Regions from separate parts of the Homo sapiens genome. Here region 1 is linked to region 2. The links come from fine-mapping of genetic effects on gene expression. A gene starts in region 2. The other region holds a variant in brackets. All regions are shown on one strand. Distances are from middle to middle. Region 1 has its middle 47 kb from the start of LINC02604. Region 2 holds the start of TPST1 (tyrosylprotein sulfotransferase 1).

Region 1 (10,275 bases), 650 kb after region 2:
GGCGTGAACCACCTCGCCCCACCAGGAATCTTTTTTAAGAAGGCTATCTACTTATGGAATTCCTTGCAAAGGAAAGGATTCATTTTGTGATTAAAAAGTAAGACTCTTGGGTTCTTGTTGGACTCCTATCTCTGTTCTTAGTAATATATCTTTGTTATTGTTGACAAATATTCATTCACCACTAGGGTTATATTTAATTGTTTGAGTTATTTTATGTTTTTTGTTGTTGTTGTTTTGAGACGGAGTCTTGCTCTGTAGCCCAGGCTGGAGGGCAGTGGCTCAATCTTGGCTCACTGCAACCTCTACCTCCCAGCTTTAAGCAATTCTCCTGCCTCAGCCTCCCGAGTAGCTGGGAGTACAGGTGCCTACCAACATGCCCAGCTGATTTTTGTATTTTTAGCAGAGACGGGGTTTTACCATTATTGGCTAGGCTGGTCTTGAACTCCTGAGCTTGTGATCCACCTGCCTCGGACTCTCAAAGTGCTGGGATTACAGACTTGAGCCACCGCGCCCGGCGTATTATATGTATTTTTATCTACCATTTTTTAATTTGTCTGGGTCCAACATTGAGTCAGTCATGCCAGTGTTAGCTTTTGAAACATGAACACTGCCCGCACCTGACTGGCATGCAACTGACATTTTCTTTCACAATTTTCTGCTACTTTTGCTAAAAATAATAGTATCCATGTCTTGCTTTTAGACCTGAGATTTTTATACCATATATGGGAATACATGATTGTTCTTCTAGATGTGTAGAGGAAGATAGTCTTGAATGCAATGTGATATTAAAGGATCCCATTTAAGATTTTTGTAATATGCTTCAAAGACCTGTAGGTTGTAAAGTAGGTCACTTGTGAGGACACATGCTCCATGAAGCACCTTATGAGACATTTTACAATTATTATTTTGTTTTGTTACTCTGTAGAAACCTCAAATGAAGGTTTAGTTGCACTCAAGCATCCAGATTGTCTTTTCTTAATTTTTTTTTTCCCTGAGATGGACTCTTGCTCTGTCACCCAGGTTGAAGTGCAGTGGCATGACCTTGGCTCACTGTAGCCTCCACCTCCTGAGTTCAAGCAATTCTCTTGCTTCAGCCTCCCGAGTAGTTGGGATTACAGGCACCTGCCACCACACACAGCTAATTTTTGTATTTTTAGTAGAGACAGTGTTTCACCATGTTGGCCAGGCTGGTCTACAACTCCTGACCTTGTGATCTGCCAGTCTCGGCCTCCCAAAGTGCTGGGATTACAGGTGAGCGATCATGCCCAGCCTGTCTTGTCTTTTCAAAACCATCCTTGGTGATTCAATGTTAAATATGTACTAGTGGATGTTACTTCGCTGAATATTGCCTAGTGAATATTAAGTAGTCTCACCTTTCAGACATGAACTTATGGATTTAAGACATGAAGATTTACAGCTTGATAAACCAGCTTCAGGAGGTAGGTCTTCAGTCTTGAGTCAGATTAGAAGATTATGTGCAGGCTGGCCGTGGTGGCTCACACCTGTGATCCCAGCACTCTGGGAGGCCGAGGTGGGTGGATCATGAGGTCGGGAGATCGAGACAATCCTGACTAACAGGATGAAACCCCATCTCTACTAAAAGTACAAAAACTTAGACGGGTATCGTAGTGGGCACCTGTAGTCCCAGCTACTCGGGAGGCTAAGGCAGGAGAATGGCATGAGCCTGGGAGGCGGAGCTTGCAGTGAGCCGAGATCCCGCCACTGCACTCCAGCCTGGGTGACAGAGTGAGACTCCATCTCAAAAAAAAAAAAAAAAAAGATTATGTGCAATAATTATTTAATGCTTGACATTGTTTTTTTAAAATGGTACCTTCCACATGAAATAATATGCTTGTAACTATTAATTATGTTCCAGGACAGGAGAATTCATGTTGTCAAAATTCTTTTTTTTTTTTTAATTTTTTTTTTTCTTTTTGAGACGGAGTTTTGCTCTTGTTGCCCAGGCTAGAGTGCAGTGGCACAATCTAGGCTCATGCAACCTCTGCCTCCTGGGTTCAAGCAATTCTCCTGCCTCAGCTTACTGAGTAGCTGAGATTACAGGCATGCGCTGCCACACCCGGATATTTTTAATAGAGTTGGGGTTTCTCCATGTTTGTCAGGCTAGTCTCATACTCCCAACCTAAGATGATCCACCCATCTCGGCCTCCCAAAGTACTGGGATTACAGGTCAGAGCTACCCCGCCCGGCCTCATTTGTTAAAATTCTAATACTCTCTAAAACAGTGAACTCATTTTCTTTTTTTAACCCATTATAAATACATGTAAATGTTGCATTTATGGGTAGACAGAACTAAAAGAACAAAATTTGGCCTACTTTTGAGATGCAAGATTTATCTGGCATAATGCATTGAACAGGTTATTATTGAAGTCTACACCAGTCACTTGAACAAGCATTCATGAAATGTCCATGATACCCAGGACACAAGAATGTTTCCTTTTAGAGTATAGAGCCATGCATATCATCTCTTAATTGTTTAGATGTGTTTCGAAAGAAATAGAAATAGAATTGGTTTTCTTACTTGTTTTGCCTCTGGAGTGAAATGGGGACAAAACAGAATGGAATCACACTGTTAAGATTTACTAAAATGGAAGGATTGCAGCAAGATCATATCCCTAGTCTCCCCATAGCAAATGGCACCTGCTAGCTGTTTTCTTTTCTTTTTTTTTTTGAGATGGAGTCTTGCTCTGTCACCCACACTGGAGTGCAGTGGCGTGATCTCAGCTCACTGCAACATCCATCTCCCAGGTTCAGGCAATTCTCCCTGGCTCAGCCTCCCAAGTAGCTGGCATCACAGGCACCTGCCAAAAGGTCTGCGTAATTTTTGCATTTGTAGTAGAGTTGGGGTTTCACCATGTTGGCCAGGCTGGTCTCAAACTCCTGACCTTAGGTGAGCCTCCCACCTTGGCCTCCCAAAGTGTTGGGATTACAGGCATGAGCCACTGCGCCTGGTCATATGTTTTTTTATAATGTTGTTTTATTTTAGGAAAGTAAATACAATGAGTAGGACTCAGCTCCATCAGCTCCACAATTCTCTTACTGTTTTTTTTTTGTTTGTTTTTTTTTTGAGATTGAGTTTTGCTCTTGTTGCCTAGGCTGGAGTACAATGCTGTGATCTCAGCTCACTGCAGCCTCTGCCTCCTGGGTTCAAGCAGTTCTCCTGCCTCAGCCTCCTGAGTAGCTGGGATTACAGGTGCCTGCCACCTTGCCTGGCTACGTTTTTATTTTTAGTAGAGACGTGGATTCACCATGTTTGCTAGTCTGGTCTCGAACTCCTGACCTCAGTTGATTCACCTTTCTTGGCCTCCCAAAGTGCTGGGATTACAGGTGTGAGTCACTGCACTTATCTGTAATGGGATATTTCACTGCAGACTTTGATGAACAGAACATTAGCATTTTTGGTGGTGTTTTTATTTTACTCATAATATTTTTCTTTGGACTCAATTACAGTAACAGAAGTAAAGATCAAATTATAAAAATTAAAGAGCAATACAGATTCAATAATTATTCTTTTCTACATATTGTGTTTAAATGATACGCTTTTTTCTTTTTGTCTTTATAGCTCAAGCTGTAAAAGCCAAAGGTCCACCCCTTTTTTCCAGTCTCAAGCTGAAGATCTTTATGTAGAAGGCCTTCCCCACAGGAATTTTTTTTTTTTTTTTTTTTTTGTGACAGAGTTTTTACTCTTGTCGCCTAGGCTGGAGTGCAATGGCATGATCTAGGCTGCAGTACAATGCTGTGATCTCAGCTCACTGCAGCCTCTGCCTCCTGGGTTCAAGCGATTCTCTTGCCTCAGTCTCCTGAGTACCTGGGATTACAGGCGCCCGCCACTACACCAGGCTAATTTTGTATTTTTAATAGAGATGGGGTTTCACCATGTTGGCCAGGCTGGTCTGGAACTGCTGAACTCAGGTGATCCTCCTGCTTCAGCCTCCCAGAGTGCTGGGATTACAGGCATGAACCACTACGCTAGGCCAGGAATTTTTGTTGTTGTTGTTTTTGTTTTTGTTTTTGAGACACAGTCTTGCTCTGTGCCCAGACTGGAGTGCAGTGGAGCAATCTCGGCTCACTGCAACCTCCGCCTCTTGGATTCAAGTGATTCACTTGCCTCAGTCTCCTGAGTAGCTGGGACTACAGGCGCAAGTCACCATGCCTGGTTAATTTTTTTGTATTTTTAGTAGAGATGGGGTTTCTTTTTTTTGAGACGGAGTCTCGCTCTGTTGCCCAGGCTGGAGTGCAGTGGCACGATCTCGGCTCACTGCAAGCTCCGCTTCCCGGGTTCACGCCATTCTCCTGCCTCAGCCTCCCAAGTAGCTGGGACGATAGGCGCCCGCCACCACACCCGGCTAATTTTTTGTACTTTTAGTAGACATGGGGTTTCACCGTGTTAGCCAGGATGGTCTCGATCTCTTGACCTCGTGATCCACCTGCCTCAGCCTCCCAAAGTGCTGGGATTACAGGTGTGAGCCACCGTGCCTGGCCAAGACAGGGTTTCACTATGTTAGCCAGGCTTGTCTGGTAATCCTGACTTCATCATCCACCCGCCTTGGCCTCCCAAATTGCTGGGATTCAGGCATGAGCCACTTTGCCCCACCAGAAATTTTTTTAGGAAGGCTATCCACTTACAGAATTCCTGGCTTTGAGAGGATATTACTTGCAATGGAAAGGATTTGTTTTGTGATTAAAAAGTAAGACTCCTGGATTC[T/A]TATTTGACTCTTATCTCTCTTGTGAGTAATACATCTTTTTTATTGTTGACAAATATTTACCACTACGGTTATATTTACTTAAGTTTGACTTATATTATGGGGTTTTTTTTTTTTTTGATGGAGTTTCTCTCTGGTTGCCCAGGCTAAAGTGCAATGGTGTGATCTCGGCTCACTGCAACCTCTGCCTCCCAGGTTCAAGTGATTCTGCCTCAGCCTCCTGAGTAGCTGGGATTACAGGCATGTCCCACCAAGCCCAGGTAATTTTGTATTTTTACTAGAGACAGGGTTTCTCCATGTTGGTCAGGTCTCAAACTCCTGACCTCAGGTGATCCACCTACCTCAGCCTCCCAATGTGCTGGGATTACAGATGTGAGCCACTGCACCCGGCCTATTTTAAGTATTTTTATCTTCCACTTTTTAATATATCTGGGTCCAACATTGAGTCAGTCGTGCCAGTGTTAGCTTTTGAAACATGAACACTGCCCACACCTGACTAGCATGCAACTGACATTTTCTTTCACAGTTTTCTGCTACTTTTGCTAAAGAAAATAGTATCCGTGTCTTGTTTTTAGGCCTGAGATTTTTGTGGCATATGTGGGAATATATGATTGTTTTTCTAGTTGTGTAGAGGAAGATAGTCTTGAATGCAATGTGATATTAAAGGATCCCATTTAAGATTTTTGTAATATGCTTCAAAGACCTGTGGGTTGCAGAGTTACCACTTTACTTGTGAGAACACATGCTCCATGAAGCAGCTTATGAGACAATTTACAATATTATTTTGTTTCGTTACTCTGTAGAAACCTCAAATGAAGATTTAGTTGTGCTCAATCATCCAGATTGTCTTTTCTTAATTTTTTTTTTTTCCAAGATGGAGTCTCTTTCTATTACCCAGGCTGGAGTGCAGTGGCATGATTTCGACTCACTGCAACTTCCACCTCCTGGGTTCGGGCAATTATCCTGTCTCAGCCTCCTGAGTAGCTGGGATTACAGGCACCTACCACCACGCCCAGCTGAGTTTTGTGATTTTAGTACAGATGGGGTGCCACCATGTTGGCCAGGCTTGTCTCAAACTGCTGACCTCGTGATCTGCCTGCCTCTGCCTTCCAAAGTGTTGGGATTTCAGGCATAAGCCACCATGCCCAGCCTGCCTTGTCTTTTCAAAACCACCCTTGGTGATTAAATGTGAAATATGTACTAGTGGATATTACTTTGCTGAATATTGCCTAGTGAATATTAAGTATTTATTCTTACCTTTCAGACATGAACTTATGAATTCAACACATGAAGATTTACAGCTTGACAAACCAGCTTCAGGAGGTAGGCATTCAGTCTTAAGTCAGATTAAAAGATTATGTGCAATAATTACCTAATGCTTAACATTTTTTAATGATGCCTTCCATATTAAATAATATGCCTCTAACAATTATGTGCTAGGACAGGAGAATTCATATTTTCAAAATTCTAATACTCTCTAGAACAGTAAACTCATTTTCTTTTTATTAACCCATTATAAATACATGTAAATATTGCATTTATGGGTAGACAGAACTAAAAGAACAATGTTTGTCCTACTTTTGAGATGCAAGATTTTATCTGGCATAATGCATTGAACGGGTTATTATTGAAGTCTACACCAGTCACCTGAACAAACATTCATCAAATGTCTATGATACCCAGGACATAAGTTTTTCTTTTATAGTATGGAGCTGTGCATATCATCTCTTATTGTTAGATGTGTTTTGAAAGAAATAGAAATAGAATTGATTTTCTTACTAGTTTTGGCTCTGGAGTGGAGTGGGGACAAAACAGAATGGAATTACACTCTTTAGATTTACTAAAATGGAAGGATTGCAGCAAGATCATATCCCTAGTCTCCCCATAGCAAATGGCACCTTCTGTTTTTTTGTTTGTTTGTTTGTTTGTTTTTGAGATGGAGTCTTGCTCTGTCACCCACACTGGAGTGCACTGGCATCATCTCAGCTCACTGCAACCTCTTTCTCCCAGGTTCGAGCAATTCTCCCTGGCTCAGCCTCCCAAGTAGCTGGGATTACAGGCAGCTGCCACCAGGCCTGCCTAATTTTTGTATTTTTAGTAGAGATGGGGTTTCACCACGTTGGTCAGGCTAGTCTCGAACTCCTGATCTCAGGTGATCCACCTGCCTCGACCCACTGAAGTGGTGGGATTATAGTCGTGAGCTGCCATGCCCGGCCGTCTTACTGTTTTTAATGTGCACTCATTATTAAAGTTTTAGTCATAACAGGAGAGAGAGTCAGGTAATGGAAACCCATATGCTTTTTACTGAGTACATTTTTCTGTACAGTCAAGGGTTTTATGCACGAAGAGTGAGACTGTTGGGAATCCTTTTTATTGGGCTGTACTTGTGCCTGGGTGCCGCTCTGCGGTAACAGAGAGAGCTTTGACAGCAGCCACCACTGCATTTGAAGATGAAGCCTCAGCGAAGCTCTCTTTTCTGTCTTGCTCCTTAGACACTTCATCAACACCTCAAATACTTAGTTTTGATATTTCCTACAACATCTTTTGCCTCCCAAAGTCACTGTCTGCCCCACTTTTATTCTGCTTCTCAGCAGAATTCTAGGTTGTTGTCACCTGCTCCCCAATACTCTTTTAAAAACTATTTTTATGGAAATTTTCAAACCTTGTGGGCTCTTGCTTGGCTCCTCCCTGTCTCATTTTCAGTCTCTTGAGGCCCCTGCCCTTATCCTCTCTACACTGGGGAGTGCCAGCCAGCAGCTTCACCCTGAGCCCTCTTTCTTTTTTCTTACTGTGTCTTCTTTACAGACAATCCCACCCTGCCCACTTCTTAAAAATATTATATTGTCTGTGTCATTGAGACTCTCATTTCTGGCCCTGAAGATGCCCCTCGTACTAGACCTTTGTATTTGCCTACCTGTTTGATTCCTCCTCAGACCTCATGTGTCCCAGGCAGAGTCTCCATTCCCCTTTTCAGGAGCTCCTCTCAGGGTCTACCAGCTGCCCAAGCCAGATGCCCAGGAGTTACGCTGAGGTGTGATTTCCTGCCTTCCCACATCCAGCCTAGCAAGGCCTCCTGACTCCGCCCTGAACAGAAAGCTCAGATCCTACCCCATCCTCCTTCACTGCCCTCCAGCTCTCAGTGGGAGTCATGCCACAGCGCAGCCAGGTCAGTTCATTGAAAGTAGGAGGTGGAGCCTGTCATTCTCTGGACTGTCATCTGTAGTGGCTTTCACTATACTTGGAGTAAACCTCACAGCCCCTGATGGGTTCTGCAGGGGCGTGGGGGAGCTGCTTCCTGCCATTTCTCTGCTTTCCTGCATCCCCTCTGTGGATCACTTGCTCTGTGCCAGCCACCATGGTCATTTGTGTGCCTTTCTTCCTCTCAGGTCACAGCCTCCTGGCGCTGTCGGGCTGAGGCCTGGTGTTTGTGGAATGCTCTTACTTGAGGGCTTTCTGTGCCTCTCATTTCTATTTGTGTCACAGTTTAAATGTCACCATGTTGGAGAGGTCTTCACTGAGCACCGTCTCACCTCAGCTGTGAGGCTCACTGACTCATCCTCCTTTCATTTTTCACAAAGCCCTGCTGGCTGACTTTTTCCTCCCACTGTAGTACAGTAGTGCTGACAGCGCAGATCATGCCTGTCCTGTTTACTTCTCAAGCAGGTGCTCAACAAATACTCACAGAGTGAATCCATGGCAATAAACTGTTCTCTAAGCTGGCAGAAATGTCTGTGGCTTTTGGCCATGTAGCATGCATTGTGACACTTAAGGGCGCAGGAGGGACTGCAGGCACCACATCTGGAAGGGCCGCAAGCTGTCCTGAGCAAGGAAGGCTGCAGTGGGGATCCATGTTCCCATGACCCTGGGGCCCTCATCTTCTCCTGAAACAGACCCTTTGAGTTTTAGTGCACAGAAGCCAAGTCTCCTGGGTTAGGAGTCCTGCCCTCCCTATGGATTTGAAGCGGGGTGCATGGCACTCACTGAGTCTTCAGAGACCAGCTTCTAGGTGCTACTCAGTTGGCAACTACAAACTTAGGTCACTAATTGTATGTTATTTGCAGAATTTGTGTACTTAGTTTTTGAACTACTTATCCTATTTTACGTCTCTAAGAACTTAATGTATTGAACAAAGTCAAAATGTTAAGTTTCTTCTCATCAGCATTTTTTGTGATATTTTATCTCTCCTTATATCTGACTGTAAATCAGCCAGTGATCCATAAACTAAATAATCTTTCCCACTCTTTAAGTCATTATGTTTCCAAGTGATGTAATAAAATAGATCAGGTGGTGAAAATTGTTTATCATTAGCGATGCCACCATAATGTTACTAAGATTCATGACACCTGAGAAGGAGGATGTCACTAGGAGATGACGCCTGAGAAGGAGGATCTGCATGAGAGGCCCCACCTCTGCCCTCCTGTGTTTTTTGGAAATTGAGCATGGTAAAAGAATCAGCTAAACTTGACCGGGCACAATGGCTCATGCCTGGAATTCCAGCACTTTGAGAGGCTGAGGCAGGAAGATGGCTTCAGGCCAGGAGTTTGAGACCAGCCTGGGCAACAGAGTGAGACCCCATTTCTGCAAAAAAATTTAGCAATTAGCCAGGTATGGTGGCATGTACCTGTAGTCTCAGCTACTTAGGAGGCTGAGGTAGGAGGATTGCCTGAGCCCAGGAGGTTGAGGCTACTACACTTTACCCAGGGGCATCGACAATGACCCTGCGATGTGTGGAAAATCCCAAAGGTTGACCACTGTGAATAGGAACTACCCTAGATGTGTCAGGAGCACCGCAGGCATACTCACTCCTCTGTTTGCTGGAGCCGTGTAGGGTGGAAGGAAACCCAAATCAAGACCATTTGCTGCTTCAGTTCTTTTATTGCATGTGACAGTCCAATATATCTCCATTTAAATTCAGATTTTTTGATGAATGGTCAGACCAGCTGCAGGCCCTTTGGGCCAGAAGTCTTGATCTTGCCAACTGTTCATTTTCCTGAGGGGACTGCCTTACTTCAGGCATTTGTGTGTAGCCGGTCTATTGTGGAGTTCAGAGGGGTGTAGAGCCCTCTCTTTTTGGGACAGTCAGTTCTCCCCATGCAGCATGTCCTGAAGCTGGCCTGTCTCTATCCTGTTTGTAAGTGTGTGAGGTCTTTTATTAAGCAGGGTAAAGTGAGAGAGGACTCCTAAAGAGAGAAAAACTCCTCCAGCATTTGCTGAAACATGTTTGTGAACTGATTAAGATGTGATTGGGATGGCATGAAAACAACTAAAATTTATCTAATTTCTTGCCATCTGGTTTGTGATATATGGTGCCCCAAATTGAGTTTAGAAGGAACTTTGATCATAGGTCAAGAAGGTGTTATATATATATATATATGTGTATATATATGTGTGTGTATATATATGTGTGTGTATATGTGTGCATGTGTGTATATATGTATACACACACATATATACGCACACATATACACACACACACACACACACACATATATATATATTTTTTGAGACGGAGTTTTGTTGTCACCCAGGCTGGAGTGCAGTAGTGTGATCTTGG
Region 2 (10,275 bases):
TGATCTAATTCTGGGCTGATCACCTGGAAAGGTAAAGCCCGGGAGAGAAAATAGAAACGCAGAAAGAGTGTTCAGAATCTATGAGGCTCATTAAATTACACAGAGGAATAGAAATGTGGTGTGAATCAGATGTGCATACAGTCTTGGACAGTTTTTCAGGAACAAGTTTTCCTTTAAAAAAAAGTTATGTATTCATTCCTTGTAAATAGGTAATCCAGGCCAGGCGTGATGGCTCATGCCTATAATCCCACCACTTTGGGAGGCCAGCGTTGGAGGACTGCTTGAGCCCAGGAGTTCAAGACCAGTTTGGGCAACATAGCAAGATCCCATCTCTACCAAAAAAAAAAAAAAAAAAAAAGTAAAAGGCTGGGCACGGTGGCTTACACCTGAAATCCCAGCACTTTGGGAGGCCAAGGTGGGCAGATCACATGAGGCCAGGAGTTCGAGACCAGCCTGGCCAACATGGTGAAACCCTGTCTCTACTAAAAATACAAAAATTAGCTGGGCGTGGTGGTGGGCACCTGTAATCCCAGCTACTCGAGAGGCTGATGCAGGAGAATTGCTTGAACCTGGGAGGCAGAGGTTGCAGTCAGCCGATATCATGCCACTGCACACCAGCCTGGGCAACAGAGCGAGACTCTGTCTAAAAAAAAAAAAATTAGCAGGGAGTGGGTGGCGTGCACCCGTAGTCTTAGCTACTCAGGAGGCTGAGGTGGGAGGATCACTTGAGCCCAGGCGTTTGAGGCTGCAGTGAGCTATGACTATGCCACTGTACTCCAGCCTGGGTGACAGAATGGGACCCTGCCTATTAAAATAAGAAAAAAAAAAAAAAAAGGTAATCCAAGCATATAGCACATAATTTTTAAAGGTGCCCAAGAGTACATAGCAAAGAATTAGTCTCTTTCCTATTCCTGTGCCCAAGTCCTTCAGTTTCCCTCCCAGAGACAACACTGTTACCAATTTAATGTGTGCATCTTTCTTGATATTTCCTCTGAAAATAACAAGTGTGTGTGTATGTGTATTTTAAATATATACAAATGGGTATATTATACACACTGTTTTGAACTTTGTTCTTTTCACTTGAGTATATTTTGGAGTTTTTTTTCCTTCTAGCACATATACTATATGTGTTGGGGCAGATTTAGAAAGCAGGAAAAGTTCATCTTGTTCTCAATAACCCTGAGCTTTGCTTCAGATCAAGCTGTTTCTTACTTCTGCCTCAGAGGCTGGACCCTGTCAGAGGCTGGACCCTGCTTCTTACTTCTGCCTCAGAGTGTAGTCCCCGGATCACCTGAAGCTGTCCTGCTCAGTGAGACATCCTGCCGTATGACAGGTTTCACTGAAAGGATCGTGTCCTTTCTTCTTACTGAATTCCCCACATCTAGAATTCGTTCTCACAGTTTAATACGTGCTAGGAGGACCAGTGTCAGCTCCCTATGTGGCTACTCAATTCTTTTTCTAGGTCTTATAGGTGGGGGAAGGATTTTCTGGGCAGTGTGGGAGGTTATCTCAGATCTCCATCTCTACTTTGTGGAAAGAGCCTGGCAGGGGCTGTGCACCGGTGGTGGCTTCCGTATTACTGAGGCCATGGTGAGTCCTTTTCCTGAAGAGGTCTGAAATGTAGAAAGCAGAATGTAACTTGGCCCTTGCTTAACATTAAAAGACTGGTTAGAGGATCGCTTGAGGTCAGAAGTTCGAGACTAGCTTGGGCAACATAGTGAGACCCTGTCTCTAAAAACAAAACAAAAGGTGGGCGCGGTGGCTCACACCTGTAATCCCGTCACTTTGGAAGGTGGAGCCGGGCAGATCATCTGAGGTCAGGAGTTTGAGACCAGCCCGGCCAACATGGCAAAACCCTGTCTCTAATAAAACTACAAAAAAATTAGCTGGGCATGGTGGCAGGCGCCTGTAATCCCAGCTACTGGGGAGGCTGAGGCTGAAGAATCACTTGAACTCGGGAGGCGGAGGTTGTAGTGAGCCAAGGTCATACATACCATTGCACTCCAGCCTGGGCAACAAGAGCGAAACTCCATCTCAAAACAAAAACAAACAAACAACAAAATTGCTGTCTACCATCTTATAGTCAGTTTTCTTATCTATCTCTGTGTGTGTGTGTGTATACACCCACACACATATATACACACACACACATATACACACAAACACACACACACACACACATATATATAATTATTATTTTTTTTTTTGGGTGAGAGGCAAGGTCTCAGTCTGTCACCCAGGCTGGAGTGCAGTGGTGCCATCATGGCTCACTGCAGCCTAGAACTCCTGGGCTCACGGGACCCTCCTGCCTGGGTTTCCCAAACTGCTGGGATTACAGGCGTGAGCCACCACACCCAGTCAGCTGATTATCTGTAGAAGGAGATATCATATGTACCTTAGACAGTTGCTGTAAAGATCAAATGAGGTCCACACAAAAACTTCTTTTTTTTTTTTTTTTTGAGACGGAGTCTCACTCTGTTGCCCAGGCTGGAGTGCAGTGGCACAATCTTGGCTCACTGCAACCTCCACCTCCCGGGTTCACGCCATTCTCCTGCCTCTGCCTCCCGAGTAGCTGGGACTACAGGCGCCAGCCACCATGCCTGGCTAAATTTTTGTATTTTTAGTAGAGACGGGGTTTCACCGTGTTAACCAGGATGGTCTCGATCTCCTGACCTTGTGATCCGCCCACCTCGGCCTCTCAAACTGCTGGGATTACAGGCGTGAGCCACTGCACCCGGCCACACACAAAAACTTCTACACAAATGTTCATAGCAGCATCATGTATAATAGCCAAAAAAGTAGAAACAGATGTCCATCAATGGATTAATGGATAAATAAAAGATGATGTCCAGCCAGGCACGGTGGCCCATGCCTGTAATCCCAGCACTTTGGGAGGCCAAGGCAGGCAGATCACTTGAGGCCAGGAGTTCAAGATCAGCCTGGGCAACTTGATGAAACCCCGTCTCTACTAAAAATATAAAAATTAGCCAGGCATGGTGGCACATGCATGTAATTCTAGCTACTTTGGAGGCGGAGGCATGAGAATCACTTGAGCCCAGGAGGTGGAGGTTGCAGTGAGCCAAGATCACATAACTCCACTCCAGCCTGGGAGACAGAGTGAGACTCTTCAAAAAAAAAAAAGGTGATGTCTGTATAATGGACTATTATTCGGCCGTAACAAGGAATGAAGTGCCGATACATGCTACAACATGGATGAACTTTGAAAATATTATACTGTGTGCAAAGGAAGGTAGTTACCTTCCCGGGTTCAAGCAATTCTCCTGCCACAGCCTCCCCAGTAGCTGGGACGACAGGCGTCCGCCACCATGCCCGGCTAATTTTTGTATTTTTAGCAGGGACGGGGTTTCACTATGTTGGCCAGGCTGGTCTCGAACTCCTGACCTCAGGTGATTCACCAGCTTTGGCTTCCCAAAGTGCTGTGATTAGAGGCATGAGCCACCCCACCTGGCCTAGCAGAGAGCAATTTTGAATACAGCTGTTAGATTCTGCACTCATGCCTTCTCTAATCCATGTCACTGGAGTAGAAATAATTGCTTTGACAGAACCTGGTGTAGATGTGTCTGTAGGAAGAAACTGTAAAATGAATGGATCATTTTGTGAAATATCTGCCCTTTCCCCACCTTTCTTTTGCTTCTTTGCCTTTTTCTCCCTAGTTTTCATTTCTTTCTTTTAGGGCGTCAGCCCCCCACCTCTGTGGTTGGGAGGGACTATTGCACGTCTACACTCTCGTGGGGATGAAATAGTGTTTGAGTTCGTTATTTGCATTTGCGCGTTATCTCCCCGAGGAGATGACAGCTTCTCTGCCAGCAGCGGGCAAAGGTGGGCTCTGAAGCAGAGGAGAGGAATTATCAGGAAAAGCTCATTTTCTTCTCCTGTCCTAGGGTTTCACTGATGAAGGCCTCTGGGACACCCACGTTGGGGGTGGGGGCGGTGAGGACCGCCACCTGCCCGCGGCTCCCCTGCAGCCAGGCCACGCGCGCTGTTGCTAGGGCAACCACCCGGCCAGGCCTGCGGCTGCCGGGAAGCCCCCTCGGGAGCGCGCACGGGAAGGGCTGTGGGGGCGCTGGCCGGCTGCGACGTCAGACCCCCGCCCCTCGGCGCCTGCCGGACCCAGCTCCATTCCCAGCCGCGCCTCCTTCGGTGGGCAGCCGGCCGGAACTCACGAATCAGAGCAGCCGACACATCGTCCGCTCAGCCAATCGTAGCAGATGTGTGATCCCGCCACCTCCCCGGACCCTGGCGGTTGTCGCTGAGTTGGCGACCGCGGGAGACGCTGCTGAGGCGGCTTCGGTTGCGGGTCGGAACGGCGCTGCTCTGCGGGGCCGGTCCAGGCTGGCAGCTGCCGGCGCTTGGCGGTGAGGGCGGGCTCCCGAGTGGCCCCCCACCGAAGGCGGTGGGACCAGCGGCTGAGGCCAGGATGCCGTCCAGGCGGCGCGGCGGCTCCTCACTCATCCCAGGTAAGGGGGACGCGGCGCTCGCTGCGGCTCCGCTCCCCTCTCGTCTCCTCACACCCGGCCCTGTGCCCCGTCCTGGCATCCCTTGGCCCCTTGTCGCCTTCTGCTCGGTGCCTCCCGGTTGTCCAACCCCGCCCCCGAGCGCGGAGCCCCGGGTCTGGCCCGTCCGGCCCCTGCTCCCACGCCCCTTCCCCCATCGCCGGCATTTCCCGGGCTCGGCTTCGCCCCGGCCGCCGGGGCCTCTCCCCTCTGCCCTTTCTCTCCCTTCTCGCAGCCCTGGGACCACGTCCTAGCCCCGCAGTCCCCTGGGATGAGACCCTCGTCTCGCCGGGATCGGACATTTGCCCCCACGTCTACCCCGGCTGCGCTTCTTGAGCTCATCGCCCCATCATCCTACCCGTTGTACGTAGTCCTGTCTGCATGGCAGTCGCCCGCCCCGCTCCAGGTGTCCCTGGGTCTTGCCCTTTTGCTCCTAAGCACCTTCCTTTCCCAACTCGCCTCTTCTCCCCTCACTTTGACCACCCACCATCGCAATCTCCTCTTCCTTCTCTTACTCTTAAACCTCCAGACACTTTCCCACTCTCTGCAATGCCGGATTCATCGCTTTTTTTTTTTTTTTTTTTGAGAGATGGAGTCTCTATGTTGCCCAGGCTGGCTTCGAACTCCTGACCTCAAGCTATCCTTCTGCCTCGGCCTCCAAAGTGCTGGGATTACAGGCGTGAGCCACTGCGCCTGGCTCAGATCCATAGTGTAATATCTTCATTCGTCCTTACATGAGCTGCACCCCATAACATGTAAAGTCCCTTGCCCAGAGTCTAGCACACAGTAGGCCTGGCACATGGTGGGTGGTCACGCATGTTAGCCTCTTCCTCCTTCCAGGCGTTTTGTACTTTCCAGATGATGGTAGCAAGAAGTCCAGTGTCCACAGGGATTTGACTCTGCCTGAAGAATGGTATGGGAGATGGCAGGAGAAATTGGTGAACTCCAGTAAAGCGATTAAATGGTCAATTACTGCATTCATTAAGAAGAAACAATTCTGCTATCCGTGCCATGTATTGTTTTATGTTAATTGCCTTTGTAAAGGATTCTTAGGCTGCTAGTCAGCAGGCTTTGCGGTGTAATTACTCCCCATCCCCTCTCCATCCCCATCTGCAGTGTTTGGGTAACTTTCTTTTTAGGAAAGAAAGAGCCCCTACCTCCCAGCTAAAGTGGCATAGTATATAAGCAATGTGGTACGTGTTTATCTATTAGCTGGATAGTCCAGGGAGCTGCAATGAATTTTCATCTTTTAAGATCCAGGAGGAATCAGGATTTGGATTTCCTGGAATCAGCTGCTGTACAGACCAAATATGCTTAAGAATGAAACTTCTGACAAGTCCTCTAAGAGTGAGAGAGGAATTATCCACCCCTCTCCCTCCCCCTCTCCAAACACTCGCTCTTGGAGGAAATAGCGAGTCGATTTTTAAAAAAGAGTAAAATACGTTTGACTTTTTAAAATGATAAAAGCATTGTCATTGGCCCTGTACTATTCTTGCCACCTTTGCTCTGATGGTCTCAAGCCTGGACGAATCAGTCAGCTTTTTCTGCTCCTGGGCTCCCAAGGCAGACTGGCAAAAATCATATAACTAAACTGCTGGGTGCTGTTTCTGCACTTCTGGATCCTGGAGATCCTTTGACTTAACCTCTAGATTCCTCTTATGTCCTAAAATCTAAATGGCTGTTTATGGATCTTTACCATTTTTCTCTGACTCTTTGTCCTACTCTTGCCTTCTCTTCATTGCTTATTTTGCCACTTAACTTCACAGAATAAATTGGTGGGCATCAGCCCTGAACTCTTAAGGAGAGGTCATTTTTGTCTGTGCCTGTCTGTACCTGATTTCTAATATCCTTTCCTCTGATCTCAGAAGAAGAGGGGTCTTACTTTCGAAAGCTAACGTCTTTGATCTCTTCCCATATTATTATTTTTTCTGTTGGATGGTATACATCCTCAGGTTTCCACCATTCAGACCAAAACAAAGCTTTTCTTGATGCTTCCCTTTTCTTTTTTTATTCTTCTCAGATTAACGTGGCATTCCTTAGGGTTTCATTTTTGTTCTTTTCTCTAATTTCCTTGTGTGATTACACTTCCTTTCATGGCTTCAAATAGCACCTATATATTTATGGTTTTCAAAGACGTCTATTTAGTCCCCGTTTCTCTTGAACCTCAGGTTCTAATTTTCATCTGCCTACTGCATAGCTGTATGTGGATGCTTGATTACTTCAAATGTGGTTACCTTTTCCTTCCCTTTCTCTCCACCCATAGCCCCCTTTAAGCACATATACAAACATTACTATTTTAAGATCTTTACTCTAGAAACCTTAAAATCATCTTCTTTTCTCCTCACATTAAGTCTAGCATAGATCCTATTGTTGTTGCTACCTCAGATCTTTTTTTTTCCTCTCTTCATAACATCTTTTTTTTTTCTCTCTCTTCATTGCCAGAAGACTGGTTCAGACCTTGGTTATGCTTTTTCTGAACCTCTGGGTCCTGTAGTCTACTTAATCCTCCACGTTGCTGCTGGAATTGGTTCCATTTCTGAACTATCAATCTGATCATGCTGCTTGTTTTCTTTAAAAATTCTCATCAGCTCCCAAACCCTTAGCATGTTGAGCCAGTCCTTCCAAGCCTTCTGTAGCATGGGCGCATCCCCTTCCTGGGCCCTTTGTGATCCAGAGAAAAAAGCAGTAAAGAAACAGACCATTCACTACCGTAAAATCAAGACTGTGACAGAGATGACTACAGGGTGCTCTGGGAGCATCACCCTGGTGAGAGTGAGGACAAGTTTCTGTCTACAGGCACCTAGGACTTTTTCTGACTACCCCTCCTCCTTAGTTTGGGTTAGGTGACTTTTCTTTGTGTTTCCACAGCACCCTGTACATACTTCCATCTCCATTTTTACCACTTATACCATTTTTAGTTTTTTTTTTGTGACACAGTCTTGGTCTGTTGCCCAGGCTGGAGTGCAGTGGTAACATCTTAGTTCGCTGCAACCTCTGCCTCCAGGGTTTGAGTGATTCTCGTACCTCAGCCTTCCGAGTAGCTGGGATTACAGGCGCCTGCCACCACACCCAGCTAATTTTTGTATTTTTAGTAGAGACAGGGTTTCATCATGTTGGACAGGCTGGTCTCAAACTCCTGACCTCAAGCAGTCTGCCTGCCTCAGCCTCCCAAAGTGCTGGGATTACAGGCGTGAGCCACTGTGCCCAGCCCATTTTTACTATTTATAATGTTCTGTTTTCTTATTTTTCTCACTGACTTGAGAGTGAACCCTTTAAGAGAAAGAGTTGTGTCATATCTCATTGTATCTCCAGTTTCTAGCAAATTGCCAAGTACATAGTGCTCAGTAAACTAAGTTTTCAGAAGAGCTGAATCTAGACAAGGAAAGGTAAGGGGAGATGGGCAGTTTGGAAGAGAAGGTAACATATGGAAAAGTGTGTCTTAGGCTAGGCGCGGTGGCTCACGCCTGTAATCCCAGCATTTTGGGAGACTGAGGCAGACGGATCAAGACCATCAAGACCAGCCCGGCCACATGGTGAAACCCCATCTCTACTAAAAATACAAAAATTAGCCGGGCGTGGTGGTGGGCGCCTGTAATCCCAGCTACTCAGGAGGCTGAGGCAGGAGAATCGCTTGAACCTGGGAGGCAGAGGTTACAGTGAGCTGACTCCAGCCTGGGCAGCAGAGTGAGACTCCATCTCAAAATTAAAGAAAAAAGAAAAATGTGTGATAACCTGGTGCTTTTGGGAAAGAACTGGTAATTTGGAAAGGCTGGAGAATGGGCATAATGAGCAATGAGGCTGGGAAGGTATATGGGAGCCGCTCATGAATGACCTTGTGTGTCCTAACACATAATCCTGATGATAGCGAGGAACCTTTGAAGGATTTCTTCCTGGGCAGATCTTACAAAGTCTGGCTTGTTCCCATCTCAGGCTTTGTGTCTTGCTGCATGCCTTGCCTTTTGCCTCAGCCATATAAAATCACCTCTATTACCTGAACATGCCTAAATGGCTTTATGTTTCTCTTTCTCCGTGGAATGCGTTTTCCCACTTAGCCACCTGTAGATTATACAGGCTTCTGGTTATCTCTGCAGTAAAGCATTCCCACATCTGCCTGCAATCCATGTCTCTTCATCTCTACTGTCATTTACTTGTTTACATGTCTTTCTCTACTCTAAGGGTAGGGCTTTGAAATCAGGATGGGTTTTGATTCATGTCTGCATCCCCTACTCTGGCAGGTAACATGAATGAGTATTGTGACCAGGTATATTTTGATTATGTTTATTTATTTTTCTAGAGATGGGAGTCTTGCTATGTTGCCCAGATTGGTCTTGAACTCCTGGCTTCAGGTAACCCTCTGCCTTGACTTCCCAAAGTGTTGGGATTATGGGTGTGAGTCACTGCGCCTGGCCCCAGGTGTATTTTCAGAAAAATTACTCTGATCTCTGGTAGCATTGTAGAGAACAGGTTAGAGAGGGGCAAGACTAGGTGCACAAAGACCAATAGGTGGTCATTATAGGAATGTAGGTGAAAGATAATGAGGCCAGTGAGGCTAAGGGGTTAGATTTGGGAGTGAATTTGTGGAGTAAGGAGAACTGGTTAGGTGTATAGGTGAGAGAGAGGGAGAAGGAAGGGTCAAGGATGACATACTGAGTTCAGGCTTGGGTGTCTGGGTAATGGTGGTTCTGTTCATCCAGGTAGGAAATACAGGAAAATAAACAAATTTTGAGGGAAAAGGAGGAAGCCAATGATAACATCTTGATGCCCAGGAAATCGCCTGAGAGAGCAGTTGGCCCTAAAGATGGAGATATATATGGAGGGTCTGTGCTAGAATTGAAAGTGAAGTCATCAGAAGTAGGTGAGATTGCCTGGTTCAGTGATTTTCAACATAGGCACTACTTAAAAACCACCTGGGGAGCTTTTAAAGAATGAGGATGGGGGATCGAGGCATCCACAGGGATTCTGTATCATTTGGTCTGGTGCAGGGCCAGACCTTGTTACTTTAAAGATGCTTCCCATGAGATGGTGATAGGTATCTAGGACTGAGAACTGGGCTGAGAGCCCAAAGAGGGAGTGATAGAACCCTGAAGAACAATAGTAGTAACTCATCCTTTAAATATCAGGACAGCTGGGTGTGGTGGCTCACACCTGTAATCCCAGAGTTTGGGCAGATTGAGGTGGGAGGATTGCTTGAGACCAGGAGTTTGAGATCAGCCTGGGCAACATAGCAAGATCCCTGTCTCTACAAAATAGGAAAAAACTAGCCAGGCACATGTGATGGCACATGCCTGTAGTTCCAGCCATGTAGAAGGCTGAGGCAGGAGGATTGCTTGAGCCCAGGAGTTTGAGGCTGCAGTGAGCTATGATCATGCCATTGCTCTCCAGCCTGAGTGACAGAGTGAGACCGTCTGTCTGTCTGCCACACACACGCGCGCGCACACACACACACACACCAGGATAAATATTGCCTTTGTTGACATAGTTTCTTGCTTTCCTGGTACTGTGTACATTTACCTATTAAAGGAGTTATCACATTTTATTTAAATTATATCTGCTGGGTCCATTTTTATTTTTATTTTATTTTTATTTTTTTTTTGAGATGGAGTTTCGCTCTTGTTGCCCAGGCTGGAGTGCAATGGCGCGATCTTGGCTCACCGCAACCTCCGCCTCCCAGGTTGAAGCAATTCTCCTGCCTCAGCCTCCTGAGTAGCTGAGATTGCAGGCATGCACCACTACGCCCAGCTAATTTTGTATTTTTAGTAGA

The links.
Region 1: its variant is fine-mapped to the expression of TPST1 in whole blood (INTERVAL, PIP 0.97).

The regions. Positions count from the first base shown.
Region 1 is chr7:66,852,092-66,862,366 of GRCh38, forward strand. It overlaps the pseudogene GTF2IP23. Among named protein-coding and RNA genes, the nearest start is that of LINC02604, 47 kb to the right of the region's middle. RefSeq lists an enhancer at 7,894-7,953. The variant T/A (reference allele first, on the strand shown) is at 4,724.
Region 2 is chr7:66,201,045-66,211,319 of GRCh38, forward strand. TPST1 (tyrosylprotein sulfotransferase 1) reads left to right here and starts at 4,290. Exons shown (of 6, transcript NM_003596.4): 1 at 4,290-4,478. RefSeq lists silencers at 3,913-4,182, 4,333-4,692.